Homo sapiens: one gene and its partner. Changing the gene in region 2 together with the main gene of any one other region gives a genetic interaction. Each region holds a gene or a part of one and is shown on either strand. Other genes may lie near its edges. The genes, in order: ARID1A and SEMA4C.

What was found.
Region 1: changes in SEMA4C (region 2) and ARID1A together harm fitness more than expected from each alone (negative genetic interaction), as found in Homo sapiens cells (one large-scale study listed by BioGRID).

What each region holds. Positions count from the first base shown.
Region 1 is NC_000001.11:26,765,444-26,769,253, reverse strand, and holds part of ARID1A (AT-rich interactive domain-containing protein 1A), read right to left. Parts: intron 3,034-3,810; coding exon 2,888-3,033; intron 2,798-2,887; coding exon 2,688-2,797; intron 1,465-2,687; coding exon 1,255-1,464; intron 1-1,254. UniProt on the Homo sapiens protein: Involved in transcriptional activation and repression of select genes by chromatin remodeling (alteration of DNA-nucleosome topology).
Region 2 is NC_000002.12:96,863,301-96,867,110, forward strand, and holds part of SEMA4C (semaphorin-4C precursor), read right to left. Parts: intron 3,132-3,810; coding exon 2,983-3,131; intron 2,630-2,982; coding exon 2,567-2,629; intron 2,465-2,566; coding exon 2,366-2,464; intron 2,238-2,365; coding exon 2,141-2,237; intron 2,021-2,140; coding exon 1,904-2,020; intron 1,816-1,903; coding exon 1,664-1,815; intron 1,581-1,663; coding exon 1,405-1,580; intron 1,083-1,404; coding exon 938-1,082; intron 849-937; coding exon 626-848; intron 495-625; coding exon 382-494; intron 103-381; coding exon of another isoform or gene 58-102; exon of another isoform or gene 1-57.

The DNA of each region.
Region 1 (3,810 bases), on a different chromosome or scaffold from region 2:
CCTCATCCTAGGTTCAGTGAACCCTGAAGCCCACCCAATCAGAAGTGAGCGAAACCTAACCCAATGCTCCCTTTCCCTATAGACAGGGAAGGCTTGACTATGAGATCTGAGTATCAGGGAGAATGGCAGGAATATGCATGGAGTCACCTCAAAAGCCTTCCGTGGCTTTGCTTCTCATGCCAGTTATGTGGCAGTATGCACGTGTCTTATTTTGTTTTGTTTTCCTTTGTGGGGGAGGGGAATAAAGCCTGAAGGGAGAAGGAATTCATAACTGACTGTTGGCTGGCTTCATTCCAACCACTTTCTTTTCTGCTGGTGACAGCTGTTTTCCTCTTCTGATTTAGAAGGTTTGGAATAAATCCCTCCCTGCCACACCTCCCCGAGCTCAGCCACAAACTGATCCAACAGCAGGCTTCTGGTCTGGTGACTACAGAACATACACAGGAGGGAAGTCTGCAAGGCACAGTCTGCTGTCTGTCTGTGCTGCCTCACCTGTTTGCTTCCTGGGCTGAGTCTACAAAATTGTAAGGTATCAGAGTAGGCACAAGCTCTGGGTGGTGTCCAATTCAGGTTTTCATTTAAGTTTCCCATACAGAATAACTAAACACATAATTTCCTACTACTTCTTCCTTTATTATAAACTATTTCTACTAAGCAGTTCCTGAAATCCTATCTCTACTGGGAAGCTTCCAGGAATGGGAAGATCTACTTCTACTCTGGCTGCCTCTGTACCATCTTGCAGGCCGATTTATGTGGCAGAAACCTTGCTGAAAGCCAAAGTTATTTCTAACTTTTGACAGTCTAGTGGGTTATATACTGTTACATACTGTTTGTATTTTACAAATAATGAAATTAAGGTTCAGAGTGGTTACACACCTTAAGGTCATATATGTTATAAGTGGCCAAGAAGGGATTCAAAACCAGGTCCATCTCTCCAAATCCTGTCTTTGCTACTATGCCAAATTGCCTCCCATGGAATCAGAATGCCCACAGACTTTCCCTAGCTTTACACCTCAGTGGGACCATAGATACACGGTAAACTTACTGCTAATACCTCATACTACCAGGGAGGTCTCTGCTTCCTGCCTTATCTTCTGGGAAACCTGTGCTCCCCGGTCTATCAATATTAGACTCAGAAAGCGGGAGAGGGGATGATGTCCCTGTGGGATGCATGGTACCACATGAAGCCAGTGAGTACCTAGAAAGGGGTTTGTGGAAACCACAGGGGCAGTCAAGTGTCAGGCGCCCACTCACCTGAGTCAATCCACCAATCTCCTTCACAGACACATAGAGGCGATAGAGGTCCAGAGGTTTCCTACCCACAGCAGGCAGATTTGTCATGCCCATGGCCTTCTCCTCAGTGAAGGCCAGATAACGGTCCACCCACATCTTCCTCTCAGGCTCACCACCCAGCTCATACAACTTGGTGATCTTCTCATTGGTTGTAGTAGAAGAACTGGATTTCTGGAAGGTTCAGGTCAAAATTCATAGGAATGGGTCAGATTCAAAGCCTGTGCTAAGGGTCTCAGAAGTCTCTTGACTGGAGCAGTGTTAAAGCTTCTTACTCTGGGGTGGTTACTAACACCTGTCCTACCTTCATAAGGTTGAAGGGCCAAAAGAGAACCAAATTTTTTTTTCCTATAAAGGAAGGAAGCTAACACTAAATATATGTTATGTACTGGGTGCTGTGCTAGATGCCTTTATATATTAGGTATTATAAAATTATCCCCATTTGTAAAGATAAGGAAGCAGGCACCAGGAGGCAAAGCCTAAGATCTCACAGCTTTTAAGTGGCAGGCTGAGTATCAAATCCTTGTCCACCTGACATCAAAGCCACTACTGCTCCCACACTACTACCCAGGAGCCTGAACATACTTAGGTACTATGTTTTAGAGAAATCGAAAAACTCACAACATGATCTTGAGGCAATGGGATGGACTAAAATGAAAAGAAACTCTTTGCCTCTTCTAAACAAAGGAAAGGTTTCCCACCTGGTTGAAGGGCTTTGGATATTATCCTGTACAAGACAGGAACGTGGTCAAAAGGGCTGGGAGCCAGAGGTGAAGACTCACAGGAATTAACAGCTATGATTTTTATTTTCCCTATGTATACAGATAGGGAAAGTGAGGTATGGCCAAGGACAGAAATATTACAAATGACCCAAATGCTGAGTAGGACCCTTTACTACCGCACAGCCTAACAGTACACCCAGGACCAACCTAAGGGAAGCCAAGGACTCAAGCCTCATCTGCCTTATCTCCTTCTTTACAGAACACAGGGTACCATTCCTGCTGCTATGAGTAAGGTTCAGGAAGAGAAGAGCAACTAGTTGCCCATGGCACACCCCATCTATCAATGCTTGAGTATAGGAGGCACGGTTTCACAGAGGGCACCAGCCAAACAGTACAGAGAGTTTGATGCTGCAGTGTCTGGCATTTCCCCCATAACAAACAGCTGTGAGAATATTATGTTATTTACCAGGATCCCTTAGACCAACCCAGACCCAACTCACTGAGCTATTATTCTGGGACCTTTCATGATAAGAGGAGGCAACAGCAGCTTTTTCAGAGACTATCTAGTCCGGTGTCATAAAAGGCTGGGATCTTGTCACTCTCTTTTCTTTTTCCTTCCTATCACTGAAAAAGATAGGACACAAAGTTGAAAGGAGTCAAGACAAAAATCACTACCTTGGATTTGGATTCTGTCTTGGGTGTCCCATCTGCCTTGTTGTTCATTTTGGTGGCTGGAGTTAACTTTACATCCCCAAGGCCCATCATCTCTGGGCTGGCTGCCATCCCTGTAAAAGAGAAAAAAATTCTCAAGTCCAGTAAGTTTAGCTGTGATGTGACTCTTGAAGAAATCCCTAGTGAGAATGACTAGCACTTACCTGCAGAATTGTTGGCCATGGTTCCACCCATGGAATATGGGGGTCCCTGAGGGTTGATCATGCCAGCCATACTATTAATCCCTTGTCCATAAGGAGGTCCAGTTCCCATCATGCCCCCTTGATTCATATTGGGGTAGCCTGGCGGCCTAAGGAAGAAGATGGAAAGTGAGAGAGACAAAGGTTAGACTCTGAGCTTTTAGATTTGAACTGGAGCCAAATAGTGCTGTGTGATCATCTAGTAAGGATTAAAAGGAAAACATTTATGGGTCCCCAAAACTAGAACTATGCAACATCCAGATATTATTTTTCTTTAATTTATTTTCTTGAGACAGGGTATTGCTCTGGCACCCTGGCTGGAATGCAGTGGTGTGATCATAGCTTACTGCAGCCTTAATCTCCTGAGCTCAAACAATCTGCCTTCCTCAGCCTCCTGAGTGCCTAAGACTATGAGGCATGCACCACCATGTCCAGCTAACACCCAGATTTTCTTTTTTTTTTTTTTGAGACAGAGTTTCACTCTTGTTGCCCAGGCTGGAGTGCAATGGTGAAATCTCGGCTCACTGCAATCTCAGCCTCCCAGGTTCAAGCAATTCTCCTTTCTCAGCCTCCCAAATAGCTGGGATTACAGGCATGTACCACCACACCCGGCTAATGTTGTATTTTTAGTAGAGATGGGCTTTCTCCATGTTGGTCAGGCTGGTCTCGAACTCCTGACTTCAGGTGATCCACCTGCCTCGGCTTCCCAAAATGCTGGAATTACAGGCATGAGCCACCGAGCCCGGCCAACACCCAGATTTTCTTATCTTCTACCTCCCACGAAAGATACTAAGAGAGTTCAAGCTCTAGATAGCAAACAATAGTTCAATTTTTTTTTTTTTTGAGATGGAGTCTCGCTCTGTTGCCCAGGCTGGAGAGCAGTGGCG
Region 2 (3,810 bases):
ATGGTGAGGGCATCATAAACATCTCACAGCCTGGGAGGTCTGGTCACAGGGGCATGGTCAGGGAAGAGGCCAGAGCCAGAACCACAGCACAGCTTGGAGGGTCTGAAAGAAACATGGGAGCAGTTGCCAAGGCTTGATGCTGGGAGCGCAGCCCCGTGACCTGGCTATATATAATGGCCCTGTGCAGTGCAGATTCCATTCTGTTTTCATTCTCGTTTCCAGGAACCCACCCCAAGTTAGGCAAGGTGTGCATCCACATGTGTGTGTGTTCCTAACTCTGCACTGGCCAAGCACATAGGCCCAACTGGGAGAAGCAGCCAGATGGAGAGAGTGAGATGGGATAGTGCTGGGGACAGTGGCAGATAGGGCCCAACTTACTACCTTGCTCTGAGATAGCACCAGGCTTCTCATGGGCTCCTGGTCAAACAGCTGCAGCTCCTCAATCAGGTGAACCCAGGGCCCCAGGCTCACAGCCTTGAGCAGCCAGCCGTCTCCTGGGGGGTGCAGAGGAGAAGGTGTAAATGAGAGGGCACAAGGCCGTGGGGCAGCTCCAAATCTCCCTGCCCTGGGCACACGGGCTTCTGCCCAGCCTTGAGCAGCCATGCCTGCATACCCATGCACCCACCTGTGCCAATGAACAGCACTGTATAGGTGGCTCCATCAAGTCCTGTAACCCGGTCGGCCACCAGGTGGGTGAAGTTGGTGCCCTTCTTCACGAGCAGGGGGCGGCTCCACCGAGGCCCCACCTGCTCCTCCATCAGCGGGTGCTTCTTGACGAAGTTGAGGATGTTGTCGGGTAGCTCCAGGGAGCTGGTGTAGCCGTGGCGCCGATGCCAGTTGTTAATGCACTGGGGGCAGGGTGTGGGGGGCAGGCCATCAGCAGGGTGGGATGGCACCGCAGCTGGGTGGGGAGATGCATCCCTGCCCTAGCACTCACCGAGCCAGGCCGAGGGCTGGGTACAGGGTCAGTGTAGCGGTCCCACTTCTGGGCTTCCTCATGGTACTCCTTATAGGGGCCCTCAAACACCCGCTGGATCTCTTCCAACTGGTACTCACAGATGGCCGACAGGTACATGTCACCCCTGTCACAGCGAGAGGGAGCCCAGGGTCAGGTACCCACCTTATCTCTTCCCACCCCAGCTAAGGGCAAGCAGCAGGAAGGCAGGGCCTGGCACAAACTGGCCATGGGTACCAGAATGCCCTGGCAGCTCAAGTGCCACCTGGCATGGGGCCCTGCCCCTTCACAGGCAGCTCTGAAAGGGGCAGGTGCCAGCATTCTCCTTGGCTTCTGGACACCTGGCTTCCGGGACTGCCTCTGAGGCCTGGTCCAGGCTCCCACCCATGCACCGTCCCTGACCTGAACCCCAGCTCCTCCCCACTCTGTGGGAGCCCTGGCCAACTCACCACTGTGCTTGAAAAACCCCAAAGAAGGTGGTGTTGTGCCAGGAGGTGTCCTGCAGGGTGTGCATCGCCTGCAGCTGGTTGAAGTAGAGCTGCCAGTTCGGGGCAGAGCATGCCAGCCGCGCCTTCAGGAACGTGGTCCACTTCCTCTGCAGGGTCCGTGCGCCCCCCATATCGCCCTGGCAGACGGCAAGGGGACACTGCCGGTCAGCCCCGCTGGGCCAGCAGGGCTCCCAGGGCCCACCGCTGTGAGACTCGGTACCTTGCAGACACGGGCCACACGAGCCACCACCTGCTCGGCATAGCAGTCGGACTCCACTGCCCGCTCCCTGAAGAAGAAGTAGACCTTGTCGTCGTCCCCCGTGAAGCTGCCCACACTCTCAGGTACATAGGCAGAGCCTACAAAGTGAGGTTCTGTGGGAAGGGGAGGAGGTCAGCAGGGAGGGGCTGGGCCCCGGGGGACCTCCCACCCATGGCTCCCACAGGCCCCCCGGTGGCTCACCGTTGAGCCAAAAGGCCAGGTACTCTGTCTTCATGGAGTGGTGGGGCCCCATGTTACGCAGGATAATGGGTTCCGTGCCCAGGAAGTTGTTGAGTGTGGCCGAGTACAGCTCACCATCTATGGGAGACAGAGGTCAGCTAGGCCACACATGAGGTATGGACACATCCGGCCAACACAGACCCAAGTGGAACCAAGCCCCAAGGACTCACCCAGCCTGCATGGGGGGCAGCCACTCACCCACAAGAAGGCCAGCATGGCCCTTAGCTGGGTCATAGGGACACTTGCCCTTCCCATCTTCAAACTCTCCATGCTCCAAAGTGAAGGTGAGCATGTTCTAAGGACAGAGAGAGAGGTGATGAGGAGATGCTTAAGGGCAGGGCTCTGTGGGCCACATCCACGAGTCCAGAGAAGGGTGAGGAGGGCGGGGGGCTGGGGACACCGAGGTAGGAGGGCAGCACTCACGACGTAGGTGCACTTGGGCTGGAAGGCGTAGGTGCCACAGACGTACAGGTGGGAGGCATTGTAGGGCTGCAGGAAGCGGATGAAGTTGAAGCACTCGGTCTGGGGGCAGAAAGGTGTCCGGTTAGTGAGAGCGCGAGGGCCAGAATGGGAGGAGACGTCCTGGGGTGAAGGCAGCACCAGGAGCAGCGTCCAAGCACCCACCTGGTTGTTCTTCCCTTTCTGGATACACTCAGTCTTCTTCTCCACGGGGGCCTCCCAGGAGATCTGGGGAAAGGGAAGGGGATGTCAGCCACGTTACAGGTACGGACTGAGCACGTGTCACAAGCACAGCCTGCAGCAGCAACACAGGGACGCCCAGTGCAGAGGCATGGTCCCTATTCTCTGGGGACTTCCTTTAGTACAGAATGGAAGCCCCAAACCACCCCACTACACAGAATTCAGTAAGTGCCAGAGAGGAGAGGAATGCCGCATGCTGACCCCAACCAGAGGGCAGGCCCCGGATGCCCAGCAGCACTTCTGTGGGGGCAGCCAGGCTGAGGGACCACCTAGCCAAGCACAGCCCCTCTGGGCCTTGCCCTCTGGCAGGCCCGACTGCCTCCCACTGCCCCACCTCTCACCGCTCCTTGCAGCTCCAGGGCCTCCATGCTGAAGGCAAACAGGGCCTCTCGGGCGCCCACGTACAGAAGCCCAGTGGGCTCCGTCAGCGTCAGTGTCAGGAAGTCCTGGATGCCGGTCTGGGAGAACCGCCGTACTACCGTGGCCAGCTCTGCAGGGGTAAGCATGGCTGCTGATGGGCAGGACCCCTGGGGCTCGACAGCCCTCAGTCTTGCTCCACGAGAGCCAGCACCCCATGCCACAAGCAGATGCCAGCCAAACCCCCTGATTGGCAATAAAGGACACTTTTGAAACAGCCTTTGGCCCTGACAGCCCCACCTGGGCCTCCCTAGCCTTTCCCAGCCTGGGAGGAGGCAAATCCAGGCTGCTGGGAGGAAGGAAGGATATCTCAGCCACAGCTTCCGGCCAGAGGAAGCCATCAGACTGATGGCTCTTGCTCTCAGGGTCAATGGCACCTCCGGCCGCAGGGCTGGGCACCCCCACCCCACCTTCGCTTCCTCGGCGGCTGCTTCCTTCTTTGCCCTGCTGCCCACTGCCTCTATCAGAGTCCAGCAGAGCAGGAGGCACAGACGGCTATGAGTACTCCCTGCCTCAGGAAACCCTTCACTCCAGCAGGACCCCAATCCAGGCTGCCAGAGATGCGAGCACAGCAGGCCACTAGGACAGGTGGGGATGGCAGGAGGGGAGCTGGGCTGTGAGCCAGGCCAGGGAGGTCCGGAGAAACCAGAGGCTCAGAGAGCGGAGATGGGGCTGGGGCCTGGGAAGTCTTGCTGCCACCCGGCATGCAGGGCACTACGACATTTATACAGTCACGTGATTCCTACATCAGC